3 separate regions of the Homo sapiens genome follow, and all the other regions are reported to be linked to region 2. Evidence: microRNA targets listed by miRTarBase, many of them from high-throughput screens and not tested one by one. Region 2 holds a microRNA gene; each other region holds the end of a gene's coding sequence. Distances are between the middles of the regions.
What was found. The annotated mature microRNA hsa-miR-1207-3p reads UCAGCUGGCCCUCAUUUC and lies in region 2 at 2,875-2,892, shown strand. An mRNA with a match to its seed (bases 2 to 7 or 8) in the 3' UTR can be bound and repressed. Matches are read on the target gene's strand: a 7mer-m8 pairs with bases 2 to 8, a 7mer-A1 pairs with bases 2 to 7 and ends in A, and an 8mer does both.

Region 1 (6,411 bases), 100 Mb from region 2:
TAAAAATTTAGATGTCTTTTAACATCTTAGATATTTTAACGTATTTAAAGTCAGGCAAAAAGCCCTATAGTCATTGCACTGCCTCAAAAATTATTTACGACAGTTCTATCTTAATGCTGTGTCCTGTTTTCCTAGCGATCAATGGCTTGAGGACCTCCCTTGAGCTCACTTTGCTGGCTCTGTTCTCTCATTTTGTTTTTGCGCTTCCCTCTCCTCTCCGGCATGTCTCAGGCCTTTATTTTTGTTGGTCCTAACAGCTGGTCCCCTTCCCTTCCCATCTGTCTCTATCATCTATTTTCAGGTTATGGCTCAGGCCCACCTTCCTGCTCCAGGAGAACATCTATGTATTCTCCAACGGCTGAGAAACATGCTGAGCGTCTAATGTCATCCTCCATATTGGTAACACGTAACATTAATAATGACAGTCATAATTTTCTGGAAGTAAGCCAAAGGTTCTAAGCTTAGATCGAACTGCAAAACAGTGTAACATAAAGTCAGCATTTGCTGTTACTATTAAATACATAAAAATTGGTTAATTTTATTACTTTTCCTTGTCTATATACAAGTAGGTACTTAAAATGGTGACCTTATAAACAGTCATCTCAGAGTGGCAATTATTGTTGGTGAATGGCTTAACGTCGTGGGTTGGTCACTACTTGTGAAATATCTGCTTTCTGAGCTGCAGAGAGTGTGGACGCCCTCTCCACAACCCCACACAATTGTGCTTCACTGTATGCACACCCAACACAACACATGCAAAGAGTGTGCGTCAGACTCAGACAATGTATTTCACTGAATTTGGACTCAAGTTCAACTCATCATTCTAATGAGTAAGAAGATTCAAAGATGACAAGGAAGCAAGCCCACACAGTCTACGGGCCATGGGATGATGAACTTTCGTTTTATTGATTTTTCAGTACCCAAGTGTGGCACTGTAAGGCTGCCACATACAGCAAGTGACATGACACCAAAAGGACCTTCCGAGAGTATTATTCTTACTTTGGATGGAAGACATCGCTTAAACAAAAAACATTTAAAGATGCTCCCTTGCTTTTTATAATTCCTAACTGTAAAATATAATTTTAGTACAGAACAAACAAATTCTCCTTGGTTGGTCACATCATTCATTATTGAAAGGGAAACTTAGTATCAAAAGAAACAAAACACTGAAATAAATAACTAAGTAATTTACTGAAAGGTAGTTTTGTTGCATTGCACACAACTGACCGCAGAGAATTCTAAAGCTGATTTTTTTCTTAAAGGATGAAAAACTCATTTGCCATTTTTAGTTTCTTGCTAAGTGATACATGCTCCTTATAAGGAAAACTACTCTGTGTAGGCCTGAGTTTAAAATGTAAATATCTGTTTATCCAGAGTTTGTTAATCTAGAGTACACAGATGTGGAAAACTGGTGGTGAAAAGAGGGACCTACCCAGCCTTCAGGGTGGCTGGGCAGGGGCCCCATGTTACTGGCCTCAGCCACCAGCAGCGTCTTCACTCCGCCCAGGTCAGAAAGCACTGCCTAAAGCCGGAGCTTAGGATGAACATGGGCAAAAAGCACTGGTACAGTTCCATGTGTTTCTCTTCTACTGTAATGTCCCCAGAGGGATTGTGAAATGTCTGAGAACATCCCCTGGAGGAGGTTTAAAAGTGAGAAGCCCATGATATGGCTATGGAACATAAGCACTTATTGCTGGCATGTTTCTACCAAGATTGAACACAATGCTTTTCTTTGATAAAGCTTTGGGCAAGTTCCTAGTCCAATTTCTTCTGCTACAAGTACACAGAATTTACTGCCTTCTTGGTCAGCTCTTGGTATGAATTCTTCTCTTGAATTAAGATCCTCCCTGGCTTGTCTCTCACCCACCCTGTATCTCTTAGAGAAAGCACCTGGCTGTCTTCACCTACGCGAGACCTTCTCTGGAATGTGATTTGCTGCGACTGCAGACATCTCCATACGGCATAATGAACTCCCTTGAGTGGTCTCTTTTTAAACAATTTTGGGTGAGGGGCAGGTTTCTTGGTTTGTTTCAAAACTCATCTTGAAAATAATCTAGACGGAAAAATCCGAAGTGAAATTCTGGTGCAACAAATATTTTAAGATTGAAGTTTGGTTACTTCTCTTGTCCATCTTTTCGTGCCCACAAATGGAAACTACATTCCTGATTTAAGAGGATGCTTCTGTCTGTATCCTTTTTTGAACTGCATTGTTCTCACAAGGACCAGCAAACTTTTTCTGTAAATATTTTAGTAAATATTCTAGGCTTTACAGGCCACATATAGTGTCTGCTGCATATTCTTCAACGTTTTTTCTTAGGCAACTGTTTAAAAATGGCAAATCCACTACTACCTCTCAGCTGGAGCAATGAGGTTTTCTCAGCCCTTGTTTCAGGATCCTCAGGTATGTGACTAACTCTTCTATGCCCAGAGCTGGAAGGCGGGGTCCCCTAACTCCCTGGGTGCCCACCTGCCCACTTCAACCATTTGTGGCCCCTTCCTTTCCTTTCTTCCCTCTCTGCTGCTGACACCAGTGGCTCCATCGCCAGCTCCCTGCAGCCTCCACCAATAATCCATGGCTCCTCCAGGAAGTGTCGCAGGCAGGTGGCCAAGACCAACTTATTAGGTAGCCAGAAGCTCACCCCTTTCTTAACAACTTTGACCACGAAGCGCAAATACGATGCAGGTAAATCCAGAGGCAGAGCCTGGGTCCCCAGGCTGCTGGTAACACGCTTTGAAATCCAGGTGAGGGAGCCATGCCCCCACAGCTCTTGCCTCAAGGATCAGATGCATTTTACCTTCCAGAGACGCAGGTTAAGCTGCACCTGAGGCAGTTTGAGCCACAACTGGGACAGAATTCCCTTGGTCTTCTCTTCTGATCCCTCAGCAGAACTGCCCCTAATGCTCAGTTCATGGCAATACAGGCCTTTTCTCTCCTGTTTCTCCAAACTCTCCCAGCCTCTGCCCAGTACCTAGTTCCAAAGCCACTTTTATAATATCCTCAGTTATCTGTTATAGCAACAACCCCACTTCTGGGTACTAATCTGCTACCAACTACAGGAATTTAACTGTTCTGGAGTTAGGGAACAGCACACACAGACACTCGCACAAAACAAACTCCACCTAAAAAAACTGTACGAGAATTCCCCAAACTTCTCAACTAAATAAATAGGTGAAAAAACACCAATCTCACATATGCCAATCCAATTGTCCTTTTTAGATTTTGGCTTAAATTGTCGAATTTTTTCCTTCAAAATGTGAATTTATTTCCTGTATTGGATGCAGACTCTTCCCTTCTGGATTTACAGTGGTGCTGCCAGCAACAGCCTCAGTCAATGCGGTTAGGAAGAGGACTCGGCAGGCTGTGCATGGGGTCTCCCAGTACGATTAAAAGCTGAGATGACTTTTAATTAAGGGGGGTGGGGGAAACACCAATTGGAAGCTGGAAGAAACTGAGGCACGATTAAGCAGAAACACTGAGGAATACTGAGCAAGAAGTGGGCATGTGCTCTAGTTCCAATAAAACCGAAACTGGTGAAACTAGGAATTTCCAATTCTTTCAAAACCACAGTGTTCTAATGCCACTGAAATATGGAATAAGGAGCGTAATTACCTGCGGTCAGGAAAAGATAACAGTAACGAGGATTTTTCTAAATAAAATGTACCAGTAAATTCTGAAGTGTGTGTTTTTAAAGAACCAGCATTGCCTCCCCTCACGCTGGTTTCTTGGGATTTTTCACACACTCGCACAAAGCTGTAGTCGATAGTTCACTATCACTTTTATAAATGGTTATCTCCTGGTGCCCATGTTTCTCTGTTTTGGATATAAATGGTTTAAAAAATTTAAATTTGCAAAGAAAACATATACAGTAACAGACCTGAACAATAAATAAAAAAAAAAATCACCCTCTTCAGGTTAGAGCTTTCAAGATAGAGAAAAAAGAGGATTATCATTTCAGGCAGTAAGTTTTTTGGTTCTATGAAAGCATCACTATTCAGTCCCCTCTCCACTGACAGAATGCATCTTTCCACCTCCCTCCAGTATCAAAGTGCATGTGTTTAAATTTAACATTCCTTAGAGAAACCCCAGAAATCTCATTTATTTTTGGCAGATATCCTGTGCAGCAAAAATCAAGTGAATTTCCCTCTTCCCCACTCCTCAATTTAATGCTGTACTCAAAATGGCTAAACGCAATACTTCTAGACAGCAGGGCTTATAAACAATGCATTTTTTTTTTTTGAGACGGAGTCTCACTCTGTCGCCCAGGCTGGAGTGCAGTGGTGTGATCTCGGCTCACTGCAAGCTCTGCCTCCCAGGTTCATGCCATTCTCCTGCCTCAGCCTCCTGAGTAGCTGGGACTACGGGCGCCCGCCACCACACCCAGCTAATTTTTTGTATTTTTAGTAGAGACGGGGTTTCACCGTGTTAGCCAGGATGGTCTCGATCTCCTGACCTCATGATCCGCCCGCCTCGGCCTCCCAAAGTGCTGGGATTACAGGCGTGAGCCACCGCGCTCGGCCTGCATTTTGTTTTTGTTTGGAGGAACAAAAAAGGGAAAGAAAAAACAAAACCACAGGAAAATAAAGAGGAGAAACCCTGAGGCAAAAATGGCTTTTCCTTTTGAGTCTTCGTGGAGCTGTGAGCTGGATCACAAGGTCCCCGGGGCATTCTGGGCGGGAAGGCCCTCCTCCATCCAGAGGGCGGCGGCCGAGCTGCTCCGGGGAGTGCGCCTGTGGATGCGCCGCAGCCGCAGCAGGTACAGCAGGATGGCCAGCAGCACCACCAGGAAGCAGCCAGAGAACAGGTAGTGGTTGTAGACAAAGGAAACGCCCCGCCAGTGGGTGTGACTGGCTCGGAAGGCCTCCTGCTGGATGTCTCTGCCCATGTGAACACCAAACAACAAACAGGACAGTAAGCAAGGAAAGGGGTGGAAAGGGTGCACAGGGGGACGGCGGGACCCAGGCCCCAGAGCTGCACTTTAGGAACTGCAACCCTACCTCTGAAATGGAGAACGGAACAGCCCAATGCAGGGGGCTTCTAAGTATCAGTGAGATAACATGTGAAAGTATACTCTGAAGTCGGTCATTATAATTTGGGCAACCAAAATCAGAGGAATTTAGAAGAGCCGTGAAGGTTTCGCTGATACAAAGAAGTCAACATGTAAACAAACTGCATGCTTGTGATCAGTAACACCCATGACTCACCATTTTTACAGTTAACCCAGTTAAAAGGGTTGCTGAGAAATGCTCAATTAAATGGAGGGGGTGGGGGGAAGAGCAAATGTCTCATCTATCAGGTAACTCAGGTTCTTAGCACAGGTCAACTGACAGCAGATCTGCAAACGTGAATGGGGAAAAACGCACATCTTTGTTCTACCCAAGCGCTGACTGAGATGTAGCATTTCTTTGACCATGAATGCAGACAACAAACTATCATTAGCGTTGGCAGCACCTGCAACTTTGTTACTAACGAAAATCACAGATCTTTCATGTCCCATTATGGTATCATCAATGCCTCAAAATATCATTGACGCTCATTGACTACACTGAAATTACAGAAAGTGCTAATTCTGCTGCCAGATCCTGTTATTTAATGTGTTAATAGAGAAGAACACATATTACAGTATCACAAACTTGTTTTCTGTAATATTTTGGTATTATTTCAATATGATGGTTTCTTCTGTAATCCTATGTATTTATACATGCATTTAAACAGTATTTGGAGAAGAGGCCTGAGTCATAAAGGTTAAGAACCCCGGAACTGACCCTTTTGCCGGGGCTGGGGAACAGACAGTTGAGAATAACCAAACACAGGGCAGTAGGACAGGAGTGCTGTGTATTACGGGATGGTAGGGTGAGAAGGGAGGAAGCACTTGTGGGGAGGGGGCAAGACCAAAAGCAAACGTCACTGTCCCTACAATTCTGCCGTGGCCGGCTCTAACAGCAATGCCCCAAACAGCCACAGACCACAGCTGCCATGAGGTGCTGTAACTGCAGAAAAGCATCTTTTTGATTCTCGTTCCCAAATTCACAGCCCTACCTTAATGGTAGAAAGCGGGTCCTGTAGAGGATGGCTCCAAGGGTCCACTGAACCTCCTTGTCGTAAACTTGCAAGGCAGTCTTTAAGCTTTTATAGTTGACAGGAAACGAAAAGCCCCTATGAAACACCTCAAACATCCAGGCCGATTTGAAGCACTGATACCTACAAACGGCAAGCACAAAGGCAAGTCAGACTGACTCACTCTGTCAAGATGGCACACACACACACACACACACAATCCTTCCCTCTGTGGGCAGCCTTGGGGCAGGGGCTTCCTCAGGCCGGCTCTCCCAAACCAACTGCGCGCGTTTCAAGGTTGATGTACTTGCTTCACATCCCTGGTCCCACAACATGGAGCAGTTCACCTGTCAAAT
Region 2 (6,411 bases):
ATCCCCGTTTTCCAAATGAGAAAACTGTCCACGGGGTCGGTCAGTAACTTGTTCAACCTGGGAATGGCAGAGCTGGGATCTGAAGTCCGGGAGCCTGGCTCCGTAGGCCTCTGTTTAAGCCACTGCATCTGTTGCCTTGTGGAATGTTCTTAGAACTGTAGGATACTGGTTCCCACATGGCCGAGAGTCTTCTCTCACTAGTTCGTGCTCCATGGTGATGGAGAAGCATAGTTCTAATCTGTCATTCTGTTGCTCTGGAGCCTACACAGCCCCCCATCGCATCTGGAGGGAGAAGCCCAGCTCCTTAGCACAGCACCTGAGAAATACCCTTTACAGTCTGGCCACTGGCTGAACATTCTTTCACTCTCCATGCCACACTGCTCTGTGAGTACCATCTGAAGGTCCTCTCCCTTTTCTCTGTCTTCTAAATGTTCACTCTTCAATATCTAACTCAAATATCCTCTTCTCTAACTTGTCCAGGAAGAATGAGTAAGGCCCTTTCCTTTGTTCCCCAGGCTCTTAGTTTCTCCATCTCTAATCACGTAGATTACAGCCCTTTCTTTGGTTTTCTCCAGGGGACCAAGGAGTGGGGCTCTGCCTTTCTCATGTCTGCTCTGCCTTCACGGTCCCCCACAGTGTCTTCAGTGGATGGCCAACCTCTCATGAACAGGATGTCCTCTTGTCTGAGGTTCTACTTTGTTCCAGCCATGGAGTCATACTCTCTTTATCTTTTGACTATCCAAAGGTGTTCTGTTGGACGACTGATGCCTTCCTCCAAGGTACTTTGGGCTCCCAAGTGTGCAGTTGACATTTGCTGTGCCTTCTCCACCAGGCTTTAGTTTTTGATGTATGCTGAGCTTCAGTGGAGATTTGCTAGCCTTGGGCTTTCTGTGTTCTTGAATCTCTCAGAGTCCAGAAGAAAAGGAAAGCTGACACTTTCTAGGAATGACCTGTGAGAAGAGAGGTTGGTGTCTTGCTGCTAAGTTCCGCTTGATTCTGAACTAAGTCACCATGGGCCAGAGGAGGCAGGGATAAGAGGAGTGGTTTCTTGGCCACCAGAATGGAAACGTTTTTGTTTTCTTGTGTGCTTTTGTGGAAATGGTGGCAGTTGCTCACTAAAGAGAACTAAAACCCTTTTACTAGAGCCCCACCAGGTCTGAAGAGGATGGGCGCGTGGGAGCCATTATCTTGTAAAGGACGCTATTGAGACCTTGCTACTGCTGCAGTGAAGAGCACAGGAAAAGCCAAGCTTAAAAAACACTGGGCGAATCCTAAGAACTTTTCATGCAGAAACACATGCATGATGAGAAGAGAATCTTCATTACAACATTGTTTGACACAGAAAAACGAGACTCAGCTTAAATGCTCATTAGTTAGTGATTGGTTGATTAAGTTGTGATAAAATGGAACACTAATACAGCTGTTTAAAAAATTAGTAAAAAAAAATCAGTATGTGAGATGATGCACCTGTTAATTAACTCAACTTAGCCATTCCACAATGTATACATCATTCAAAACTTCACATCATATATTATAAATATATACAATTTTTATTTGTGAATTAAAAATTAATCTAAAAAAATTAGTGGCTATATGAAGTAATTGGGAACAATCTTGAAGCTATATTAACTACCAAAGAGCAAAGTCAACCTTAACAATGCTGACTTTTTAAAGAATAGTGCCTAGAACACTGTGTGGAGTATGCTAACAGCTACACACTAATGCACAGCCACCAACCCCAGATCAGTTACGTGAACTTCTGCATTCACAAACACACTTAACACACTCTGTGGCTATTGCCTCTTTACTGACCTGTAAGTCAGTTCTAGAAGACAGACGATCCATGAAGGCAGGTCCTAGCCTGCCCATTTGCATTGGTATCTCCAAGGCCAAGCTAGAGAAGGCACACAATAGGCTTTCCACTAATATTTGTGAATGAATGAATGAACAGAGAGAGGAGTTTTCTTTCCACAGTTTCCTTCTACCTGCTACTCCTTGAGCATATGAGGCTGGAATCTAAGCCCTGAGGTCACTCACTGCTCTCCTGGGTACTATCCCTGGCCTCCCGTCCTTTTCCTTGAGCTTCTGTGCTCTGCAAGGCTTTCTCATTATCCTTTAGGCTACAGAGAAACAAGGAGACGGGAGAGCCTTGAAATGGACCTTCAAGATTACAATGTGTAGCTGACATTGTCAGTTAAGTTGGGCAGATCTGACTTCGCTGATTAAGTGGATGTATGAGCCGATCCTCCCCAGAAGCTGGGATCAGCTTCCCCATCTGATGGTGAGTCAGACCTGCTGGGGTTTGGGTCCTCGCTCCAGCATGGCTGCCTGTGTGACCTTGGCCACTTTACTTAACCTTGCTGAATCTCAATTTCCTGATCTGTAAAGGAAGCTAAAAATGCCTCTCTTGAGGTTGTAGTGAGGATTAAATGTGATAGCATAAGTGAAAGTGCCCTTTGAAGAAAGAGGAAGGCGAAAGCGCTTATTGTGTCAGGAGAAATGTGTGGAGAGCCCCCTGTTGTTCTCAGGTGTCTCATCCTTCCCAGGGAAAAATCCCCATGCCAAGTCAGAAGAGGTTATAATTTGGCTCTTACTCTTTTATTCAGGCACTTCTTTCGGCTGCCCAGGGTTTTCAGCTTAAGCAAATAAATTACCCTTCTCCACTGGACTCTGTGTTCTGCAGCCAGCCATATGTTTAAGCTTGATAGAGATTTTTATCTGGCTTGGTAATATTACCCAGCAAGGGATGACATTTCTTATCAGAGGCCCTGAGGAATCAGAGATAGGAGCCCTTTCTTTTTCCTGGCCGCCAGGCCTCCATGTGCAGGGCTGGCAGGGAGGCTGGGAGGGGCTGGCTGGGTCTGGTAGTGGGCATCAGCTGGCCCTCATTTCTTAAGACAGCACTTCTGTTAGCTGACCTACACAGAAGCAGGTCATTTCGAGATGTTTGCGTCTTGGAGCCACTGATAGAAGCAGGGCAAGGGAGAGTGAATGAGGAAGGAAGGCGGGAGTGTGATGACGCATGCCCAGCTTTGCGCGGAGGCAGAGCACTTGCCTGTGTGGGGCCCTGCCCTTCTCTTGAGAGGCAGGCGGGCCCTAGCTGCAGCGTCAAGGTCTGGGGATTCTGTGGCTCTGTAGGGTGAAGGGCACTGGAGACCTACCAGGGGCTGGGCCATTGGAGTGGTGGGTGCTGGGGAGCTTCCGTGGGCCCCTCCAGGTCCACTCCTTGCTCTTCTCTGCCTTGTTTTGTGCCCAGAAGGCTGACCTGTGTGGATGCATTATCAGGGTGGATGCAACACAGGGCTGCCATGCTCTCTGGTATCAGTTTGGAAGGCACTGGCAGGATGGGAAGGCAGGCGGGGAGTGAGGTCAGGGGGCCTATCCTTCCACTGCCTCCCTGCTGCTCCCTGACTGATTCAGGTAAGGTTTACACCGGGGCTCTAGGTTTGAATTTTGATTCTGGCATGTACTTGCTGTGTGATATTAGGCAAGTGGTGGAACCTCTCTGTGCGTCCGACTTCTCATCTATAGTAACGCTTTTGCATTCCATTGATCTCTTTGCCTCTCATTTGCCCTGAATGCTGAAGGAAAGGACACTGCTGTATCCCCTGAGGGACTGTCTGAGCCCAAAGTACACTGGGGACAAGGGCTTCAGGGTGGGCAAGGAGATGACCGATGATCACGTGATTTGGAACTATAGCCTCCATTGGAGACACGTGCTCTGGGCTCTTTCCCTCCTGAGTTTTGGGAAGTCCTGGCCTGTGCAGCCTAATTCTCAAGTACTAATCTTGCAATCATAAGAAGAGGAAGGAGAAGTGGTTTTCCCTCTCCCTGGACCCATTCCAGCCAGCAGTTCCTGACTTTGCTTCCTTCCTGTTGGTGCCCACTCTGTTTCCTTCCATCCCTTCCCCAACCTCTCCCATCCCATGCCTCATGTTGGGCAACTTGAGTTTAACTGTCTCTTCTTCCAGTGGCCAAGTCCAAATTCTGAAAGCACAGTTCTGACCATGTCCCTGTCCAACTCAAAAACAGTAGCTCCGTGTCACCCACAGGCTTGAAGTCAGACCTCTCAGGGGGCATTAAGTCCACCGCAACATCACTCCAGCCTGTGAATAAAGACTGAATGCCTCCGAGCCTCTTATGTGGGGAATCAGTTCTGGTAAACAGGTCTCACTTCTTGTCTTTTAAACACTACTTGCTTTCCTTGACGTCTGTGCTTTGATCCCATTGTTTTTTCTCCCTTGGATGCCTGAGAGATCCATGGGCTCTGGCTTCAGAGAGTGCTGGGTTCAGACCTCAGCTCCAACAGTTGCTGGCTCTGTGACCCTAGGAATGTCACCTCACCACTCCAAGCCTCTGTATCCTTGACATTAACCTGGGCTGATAGTTCCTACCTGCAGGGTTCTTGTGAGAAGAACCTGTCTAAAGGCTCCTACTGGGGCTTGACTTGTCAGATAAATGAATGGGGTTTTCCCTAACCTTCTAATTGACTACCCCACTGATTATTCAAACTCCACCTGTCCTCAAGTTCCATTCCATCATTCACTTCCTCTGTGGGTTTTTCTGCCACAAAGTCATCTTCCTCTGTTTGAAAGACTCTTAGTTCCTCATGTATGACAGCAAGAGTGGACCTCATCTCTTTCTTTTTGTGTCTGACTTCCCAGCACAGTCTCAATTTCTTCAGGGCATTGACTGTGGTGTAAGATTCTCAGCTTGAGCACTGGAACCATTTATGGGACGATTGAGTATTCAACTCCAAGAGAATGAAAGAGAGTCACTTGTTCTTTCATTGAACGAAATTGATTGAGTGCACATGATATGTTGTGTCTGTGCTTCACACTGGAGTTGTAAGGATGCATAAAATGAAGATTCTGTCTTCACATAGCCTATCATCCAGTGAGGAGGTTGCATTATTGGGAATCTGTGCCAAGCCTGGATTGCATAAGACATAGGTAGCTGAGAACCTGGTGCTGACTGGGGACTGGGGGAAGTTCTGTGCCCAAGGAGAGGAGGACTCTTCCCTTCAGATGGATGCCCATAATTTTATCTTTAACTTTTAAGAATTTGGCTTTAATGTGCCTCAATGAAGACCTCCTTATGTTTAATAAATTACAAATTATTTGGACTTCATGGATTGAGATGTTTATTTTCCTCTCCAGATTTGGAGAGTTCTATGTATTTTTTTCTTTAAATAAACTTTCTATCACCTTCTCCTCTGCTTTTATTCCTCCTCTTGAGTTCCCATAATGTGTATTTCAGTTCACTTGATGGTGTCCCATAAGTCCCATAGGTTTTCTTTTTCATTTTTTTTTCTTTTTATTCTTCTGACTAATTTCAAATGGCCTGTCTTTGACCTCATTGATTCCATCTTCTGGTCGATCAAGTCTGCTGCTGAAGTTCCTTATAGAATTTTTCAGTTCAGTCATTTTGCTTTACCACCAGAATTTCTGTTTGGGTCTTTTTTTATGGTTTATCTCTCTTTGTTGAACTTCTACTTTGTTTATGTATTGTTTTTCTGATTTTGTTGTTTATGTTCTCTTTAAGTTGAGTTTCTTCAAGACAATTATTTTGAATTCTTTGTCAGACAATGTATAGGTCTCAATTTCTTTAGGATTGGTTACTGGTGCTTTAGTTTGTTTTTTAGTCATGTTTCCTTGTCTATTTGTAACCCTTGGGGTCTTGTGTTGATGTCTACATATTTTAAGAAGTAGAGATCTCTTTTATTCTTTACCAATTAGCTTTGGCCAAGAAAGCTGTTCACCAGTCAAGATATTTTGGGTGGATTGGCTGGCAGGGTCTGAGGGCAAGTTTACTGCTGGAATTCTTAAGCGGGCTGGCCTGGTGCCTGAGTCCATGGGTACAGGCCTAGATTCTGGGTCCCTGGGGGCCAGACTGGCACTGAGATACAGTGGGATGGCTTTATTGACTGTGTTCATGTCTGTAGCATGCGTCTGTGAAGGCCAACCTGGTACTAGGATCTACACTGATGTTGGGTGCTTACTTCACTCTCCTTCCTCCACATGAAGGGTTTCTCTCTTCATGCTGCACTGTGCTGTCTTGGGGGAAGGGTGATGTGAGTGATGTGAAACTCTTATTCCTACCCTTTTCAATGCATCTTTTATTATTTCTATGCTCCACCCAGCTGCTGTAATTGCTCATCTGGATTTCTTAGCTCTTGTGAAGGTATATTTTTCATGGGTGGTTGTTCAAATTGCTGTTTCTATGAAGGGATAGACACTGGAGACTACTATTCTGCCATCTTGCTCACATTACTCTTCTCTTCATAGTATTATTTAAAATGATACATTTAGTTTTGTTTATTTCACATCTGTATTCCTTCACTAGATTGGGATCCTGTAAGGGGAAGAATGAGGTCAATTGTGTTTACCACAGTCATAACAATAAAAACCA
Region 3 (6,400 bases), not on the chromosome of region 2:
CTCTGAAGAAGAGGACTCTATGGTGCCCAACTTATCGCCTCTTGAGAGTCTTGCCTGGCAGGTTAAGTGCCTTTTAAAATATTCCACAACTTGGAAACCTTTAAATCCTAATTCCTGGTTGTATCATGCTAAACTGTTGGATCCAAGCACACCAGTCCATATACTTCGAGAGATAGGTCTAAGACTCTCCCATTGTTCCCATTGTGTCCCCAAACTGGAACCAATTCCTGAATGGCCCCCTCTGGCCTCTTGTGGAGTCCCACCTTTTCAAAAGCCTCTTACAAGTCCCAGCCGGCTCTCTAGAGATCATGCCACTCTAAATGGAGCACTGCAATTTGCCACCAAACAGCTAAGCCGAACATTGAGTAGAGCCACTCCCATACCTGAATACCTAAAACAGATCCCTAATTCATGTGTTTCTGGGTGTTGCTGTGGCTGGCTGACTAAAACAGTTAAGGAAACAACTCGTACTGAACCCATCAACACTACTTATTCTTACACTGACTTCCAAAAGGCAGTTAACAAACTCCTAACTGCATCACTGTAAAGATCTACCATTTGCTCTGATATCTCTGATGTTGCTAATTGAGAAAGTGGTACAAAGTTAGTCATTACACAGCCCACTAATGCCTTCTCAGTCAAACTCTCTTATGCCCTGGCAAGCCAATGAGGATACCCTTTGACAAACCCTGTGGATAAAATGATAATATCAAGGTCAGGCATGGTGGCTCACACCTGTAATCCCAGCACTTTGGGAGGCTGAGGCGGGTGGATCTGCTGAAGTCAGAAGTTTGAGACCAGCCTTGCCAACACAGTGAAACCCTGTCTCTACTAAAAATAAAAAAATTAGCCGGGCGCAGCAGTGCACGCCTGTAATCCCTGCTACTCGGGAGGCTGAAACAGGAGAATCACTTGAACCCAGGAGACGGAGGTTGCGGTGAGTTGAGATTATGCCACTGTACTCCAGCCTGGGTGACAGAGCGAGACTCAGTCTCAAAAAAAAAAAAGGAGAATTAGTTAAGGGGACCATATTACAAAAGATAGTTGAATATTCTTCACACTCACTTCTCACCCTCCCCACCCCAATTTACTCTGCCTTTCTGAATGGCTTTAATGAGATACCTGATTATTAATGAAGAAAAGTAGACCACCACCCCTTTTGTTATCCAGACTTTAGAACAGCCATTGTTGAAAGCAAGAAGTTAGCTACCCACAATAATACCTTTCTGAGCATACTCTTCTCTAACATACATTTCTGTGGAAGTAGTTGAATTAAATTGAGTAACTACACAAAGGAAAATGGCAGGGCTATGAATTTCTTTCCCAGCTTTTATATAGATGTGCCTACATATGACACTCTTTAGGGTTCCTTTTATTTTTTCTTTTTTTTTTTTTTTGAGGTAGTTGAATTAAACTGGGTAACTACACAAAGGAAAATGGCAGGGATATGAATTTCTTTCCCAGCTTTTATATAGATGTGCCTGCATATGACACTCTTTAGAGTTCCTTTCACTTTTTCTTTTTTTTGGAAGGGGGCGGGGAGGCAGGAGGAGTGCAGTTTTAAGCCTAGCCTATACTACTACAAACTTATTATGGTACTTAAAATTACAGCATGAACGTTCTATATCGGAGTCTCCCACCAGGCTGTCTCTGACTAAATCAGCCTATAAGATCATCCCTTGGGATTAAACAAACACCTGTTCTGTAGGGAATGTGTTTCCTGAATCTTGGTACTCAGACTTTTGTCAAGAGTAAATAACATTTCAAAAGATGAATGGAAAAATGATTAAGAGAGCATTTCTGCTTTCAGCATTAACTGCTAATGGATTAAAATTTTAATCTGTATAGCATTTCCTGGAGTAAAAGCTCAAGTACTTTCCACATCCATTGCAAACTTTTCAGGAACCCTTCTAATTTTTTTTTTTTTTTTTTTTTTGAGACGGAGTCTTGCTCTGTCGCCCAGGCTGGAGTGTAGTGGCATGATCTCAGCTCACTGCAAGCTCTGCCTCCCGGGTTCGTGCCATTCTCCTGCCCTGCCTCCCGAATAGCTGGGACTACAGGCGTCCACCACCACTCCTGGCTATTTTTTTGTATTTTTAGTAGAGACAGGGTTTCACCGTGTTAGCCAGGATGGTCTTGATCTCCTGACCTCGTGATCCACCTGCCTCGGCCTCCCAAAGTGCTGGGATTGAACCCTTCTAATTTTAAAGAACCTTGTTATTAGAAAATCTCAGCCTAATACAATCTGAAGTTAAGAGTTTTAGCAGCATTGTTTTTCTAAGTAGATTTAGCTATAGATTTTCTTCTGGCCAAACAAGGAAGAGTATATGCCCTTGTAAATGAGTCTTGTTTTGTTTATTTAAATAGTCAGTCAAAACGTAGAAATCAGTATACGTAAAATAAAATGCATGAGACTATTAAATCTTTTCATATACTCTACAAATAAAATGAAATCTGTGTGTGGTCCTGGTTGACTGGGCATCTAAAGGGAATCAGAAAAGAGATTGTGAAAAGTTATATATATATCCTCTTCCTTATTTTAGTTTTGCTTTTTCCTATTTTCCATAATTAAGTGCCGTTTACAAAGTGGCATCAAAAAATTGAAGCAGGCCAGGCATGGTGGCTCATGCCTGTAATCCCAACAGTTTGGGAGGCTGAGGGCAGGTGGATCACTTGAGATCAGGAGTTCGTGACCAGCCTGGCCAACATGGTGAAAGCCCATCTCTACTAAAAATATAAAAATTAGCCGGGCGTGGTGGCATGTGCCTGTAATCGCAGCTACTTGGGAGGCTAAGACAGGAGAATTGCTTGAACCTGGGAGGTGGAGGTTGCAATGAGCTGAGATCGCGCCACTGCACTCCAGCCTGGGCAACAGTGAGACACCGTCTCAAAAAAAAAAAAGGTTAGGAATCACAAATTGTGTAAATATATAGCAACTTTAAGAAGAGAGAAGAATGCTTATAACCTAGTGAATATTTCTGCTGAGCCTTAGTTGTCTTGTCTAAAGGAAAAAAGAGGGAATTGTAGAATAAAAGTATTTGTTAGTGGAAATTATTGACCTGAAACCATATCATATTGTTAGTGTAACTGAATGTATCAGAAATTGTTCCTATGTAGGTATTCTGTGAAACTGGTTTCTAAAATGTTACAGGAAACTGTTTCCTTTTTTTTTGTTTGTTTGTTTAAGTGGAGGTGGGAGGAGGTAGGGAAGAGGTCTGAATATTAAAATATGTTTATGTTCATGTGTTCATAATACGTTCCTTTTTCTCTCTGTGTGTGTATAAAAGTGCCTTGCTCATGAATGCATTTTTGCTATTCACTTCGAAAGGAAGCCTTTCCCCAGCTTGGCAGCTGAATAAACCAATAGCTTTGTACATGCTGAACAGAGTATGGTCATTTGTCCTCAACAAATGAAATAGATCCTACTTTGCTTAAGGCATATTCTACATTCACTAAGTACTGAATAGAGTTAATAGATACAGTACCTGAATCTATATAGTATGTCTGACAGGAGATGACTTGGCGTCTCTAGAGAAGAAACACACTTGAAGAAGAAAATGTCTGATATTCAGTCAAGATTCAAAGTGAGCTTATTTGTTTATGTATTTTAAGTAATTCCAGGTTGCACAAAATAACAGGTACCTAAATAAGCCTTAAGTTAACTTTTTGTGTGGCATAAACACTGGGTTTGGGAATGAATTTACTACCTTTGCACTCCCTATGTTGGCTTCTGTTAAATGCAGTCACCATAATTAAGATAAAAAGATTATTTTATCCTCTATTTATAGAAATATTTATCAAAGGAGTAAGGAAACTATTTCTAAACCAGTGGACATTAACTGTCTTTTACTTTCTCAGTGCAGATAGGCAACTTTTTTTTTTTTTTTTTTTTTGAGATGGAGTTTCGCTCTTGTTGCCCAGGCTGGAGTGCAATGGCGCAATCTCGGCTCACTGCAACCTCCACCTCCCGGGTTCAAGCAATTCTGCCTCAGCCTCCCGAGTAGCTGGAATTACAGGCATGTGCCACCACGCCCAGCTAATTTTGTATTTTTAGTAGAGATGGGGTTTCTCAATTGGTCAGGCTGGTCTCTAACTCCTGACTTCAGGTGATCCACCCACCTCAGCCTCCCAAAGTGCTGGGATTACAGGCATGAGCCACCGTGCCCAGCCATAGGCAACATTTTTATTAAAACAGTCCAGATACCTTGAGCCTCAAAGACCATAATCACGTCTTTTAATCCCATCTGCTTCCTAAGAAAAGAAAAAAATCCATACATGCATGGCAGGAGGGCATATGATAGGTCCCCTCTAGGGGATAGAAGCCCTTCCTGCTGGGTCTTCTATCACACCTGTCCATATTTTAAAAAAAAAGTCTCTGATGAAAATGTTTTGATAGTGTAAATAGCTAAAGCATTTAAAGACTTTAGAAGTCACTTGGGTTATTTTCTGATGCGTAAGTTGGCTTGCATCTGGCTTTCTACTTTTGGCTCCAGTGTTAGAGAATATGTCTTTTGGAGCAGCCTGTTAGTTTTAAATATCTCTTGTTAGAAATTTAGCCATTCATCCAATATTGCTATGGAGAAGTGCCTACTCTAGTGCAGACACTGGGAATGCAAAACTAAATAAGATTACTACACATAGGAAATTAGTTTTAAAATATATGAACCTATATGTTACCCCAAGCCATTTCTGCTGTCTAGGGTCATATTAAATAAACCTAAACCCTAATCCATATGTTGGCCCTTCACATATTGAAAATAGCTTATAGTGGAGAATCATATAAAAGAATTGAATGGAGCAGCCATCCAAGTATAATGAAGATTCATCTGGAGGGCAGACTTCAATTAAACCCCCACAACGGATACTCAGCCAAGGAAATGGAGAAAATATATAGATATTTTGTATCCAGATTTAAATTATATCTGCTAATCACAAGGTAGTGGCACAAAGATCAGGGCCAAAAGTGTTTTGCTCAGGTAGCTAGGACATATAGAACAGCCTGAGAAGTATGGATAACTTCTCAGACTTCATGAGTTAACTGTGCAAGCTGGTAACGTATCTGTCCGCCAGTGATACCCATTGGACTGAGGGAGTTACATTAGCTGGACCAACCACCAGTACTTCTATGTCAACTTGCTGTTGCTAAAAGAAAAATGTCTATGATGTGTCTCAAATAATTTTAAATACAGTTGAGTTAATGACTACATATTTGAGTCTGCTAATTCCATGCAGTTTGCCAAGCTCTTCCTTTCAATTAGCAGCCGCAGTGAGACTTAAGTTTGCAACTGAGACCAAGAAATGGAAAGGATGAGGATATACCACAGTGACCTGACACTTGCTGGCTTCCCATCTTCTGTGAGAGCTATGACCAGCTATTCTCAATGAGCTCTGGAAAATGAATGCCTGGTTTTCTTTTATTATTATTATTATTTTTTTATTTTTTTGACACAGGGTTTCGCTCTTGCCTAGGCTGGAGTGCAGGGGCATAATCTTGGCTCACCGCAGCCTCGACCTCCTGGGCTCAAGCCATCCTCCCACCTCAGCCTCATCAGTAGCTGTGGACTACAGGTGCACACCACCACACAGGCCAATTTTTGTATTTCTTTGTAGAGGCAGTTTCACTCAGGCTGGTCAGGAACTCCTGAGCTCAAGTGATCCTCCCACATCAGCCTCCCAAAGTGCTGGTGTTACACTGGTACCTGGTATAAAAAAAAAAAAAAAAAAAAAGGAAAATAACAGTGTAACAGGAAGACAGCGATAGGGTTATTTCTTCTAAACTGTGGAGTCAGTTAAAAACGTTAGCAACAGTTTCAAGTTGAATCATAAAACGAAGTTGACTGGAATTTGGGCAGTTTATTTAGGAAGATTCTGACACGTGATATGAAAATTCCTGGGATCATTAGGGGAGTTAGGCTCTATATAACAACAATCATTCAGGAGGGACTCAGGATACTGGTTAGCTTAACAAGATTAAAACTGACTTCCTAGTATACACATAAACCAAGCTAGTTTCTCAAATTAGCAACAGAAACCAGATGAAACTCCTCAAATGAGTGTTGCAAAATAAGGAGCTGGTACTATAGTTTTATTTGGGGAGAAATTGTTAAGTTTGGGTTAACTGCTCAGCCTATGCCTGATACTACCCTTCCATCTATGGTATCAGCTGTGGCACCTGACACTCCAATGTATCAGCTGATGGTTTTGGTTTACAATAAATTAATTAAGCAATGGACCAGTAGGGGCAACTTCTTTGAGAGGTACCCAAACAAGTGGAACAGCCCAAGGGCATGGCCATCTTCCATCAAAAAAGACCCTAGGTGGGCTTTCTGGTTGCACCCTGAGTAACCAGAATGGCCTGATAGACTGGCAGAGCTCTGGTGAAAGAAGGGTGCAGCCACTA

Region 1: miRTarBase lists ENTPD4 as a target of hsa-miR-1207-3p. Seed matches in the 3' UTR shown: 8mer at 2,354-2,361.
Region 3: miRTarBase lists DCAF16 as a target of hsa-miR-1207-3p. Seed matches in the 3' UTR shown: 7mer-A1 at 3,349-3,355.

The regions. Positions count from the first base shown.
Region 1 is chr8:23,428,280-23,434,690 of GRCh38, forward strand. ENTPD4 (ectonucleoside triphosphate diphosphohydrolase 4) reads right to left here. Exons shown (of 13, transcript NM_004901.5): 12 at 6,038-6,199; 13 at 883-4,875. The coding sequence ends at 4,647. Among named protein-coding and RNA genes, the nearest start is that of ENTPD4, 26 kb to the right of the region's middle.
Region 2 is chr8:128,046,329-128,052,739 of GRCh38, forward strand. MIR1207 (microRNA 1207) reads left to right here and starts at 2,824; the gene lies at 2,824-2,910. All of the region lies in intron 6 of PVT1 (Pvt1 oncogene), which reads left to right. RefSeq lists enhancers at 1,903-4,019, 2,539-3,084, a silencer at 2,167-2,350 and a cis regulatory region at 2,963-3,215.
Region 3 is chr4:17,797,638-17,804,037 of GRCh38, reverse strand. DCAF16 (DDB1 and CUL4 associated factor 16) reads left to right here. Exons shown (of 3, transcript NM_017741.4): 3 at 1-3,383. The coding sequence ends at 547. Among named protein-coding and RNA genes, the nearest start is that of DCAF16, 9.9 kb to the left of the region's middle.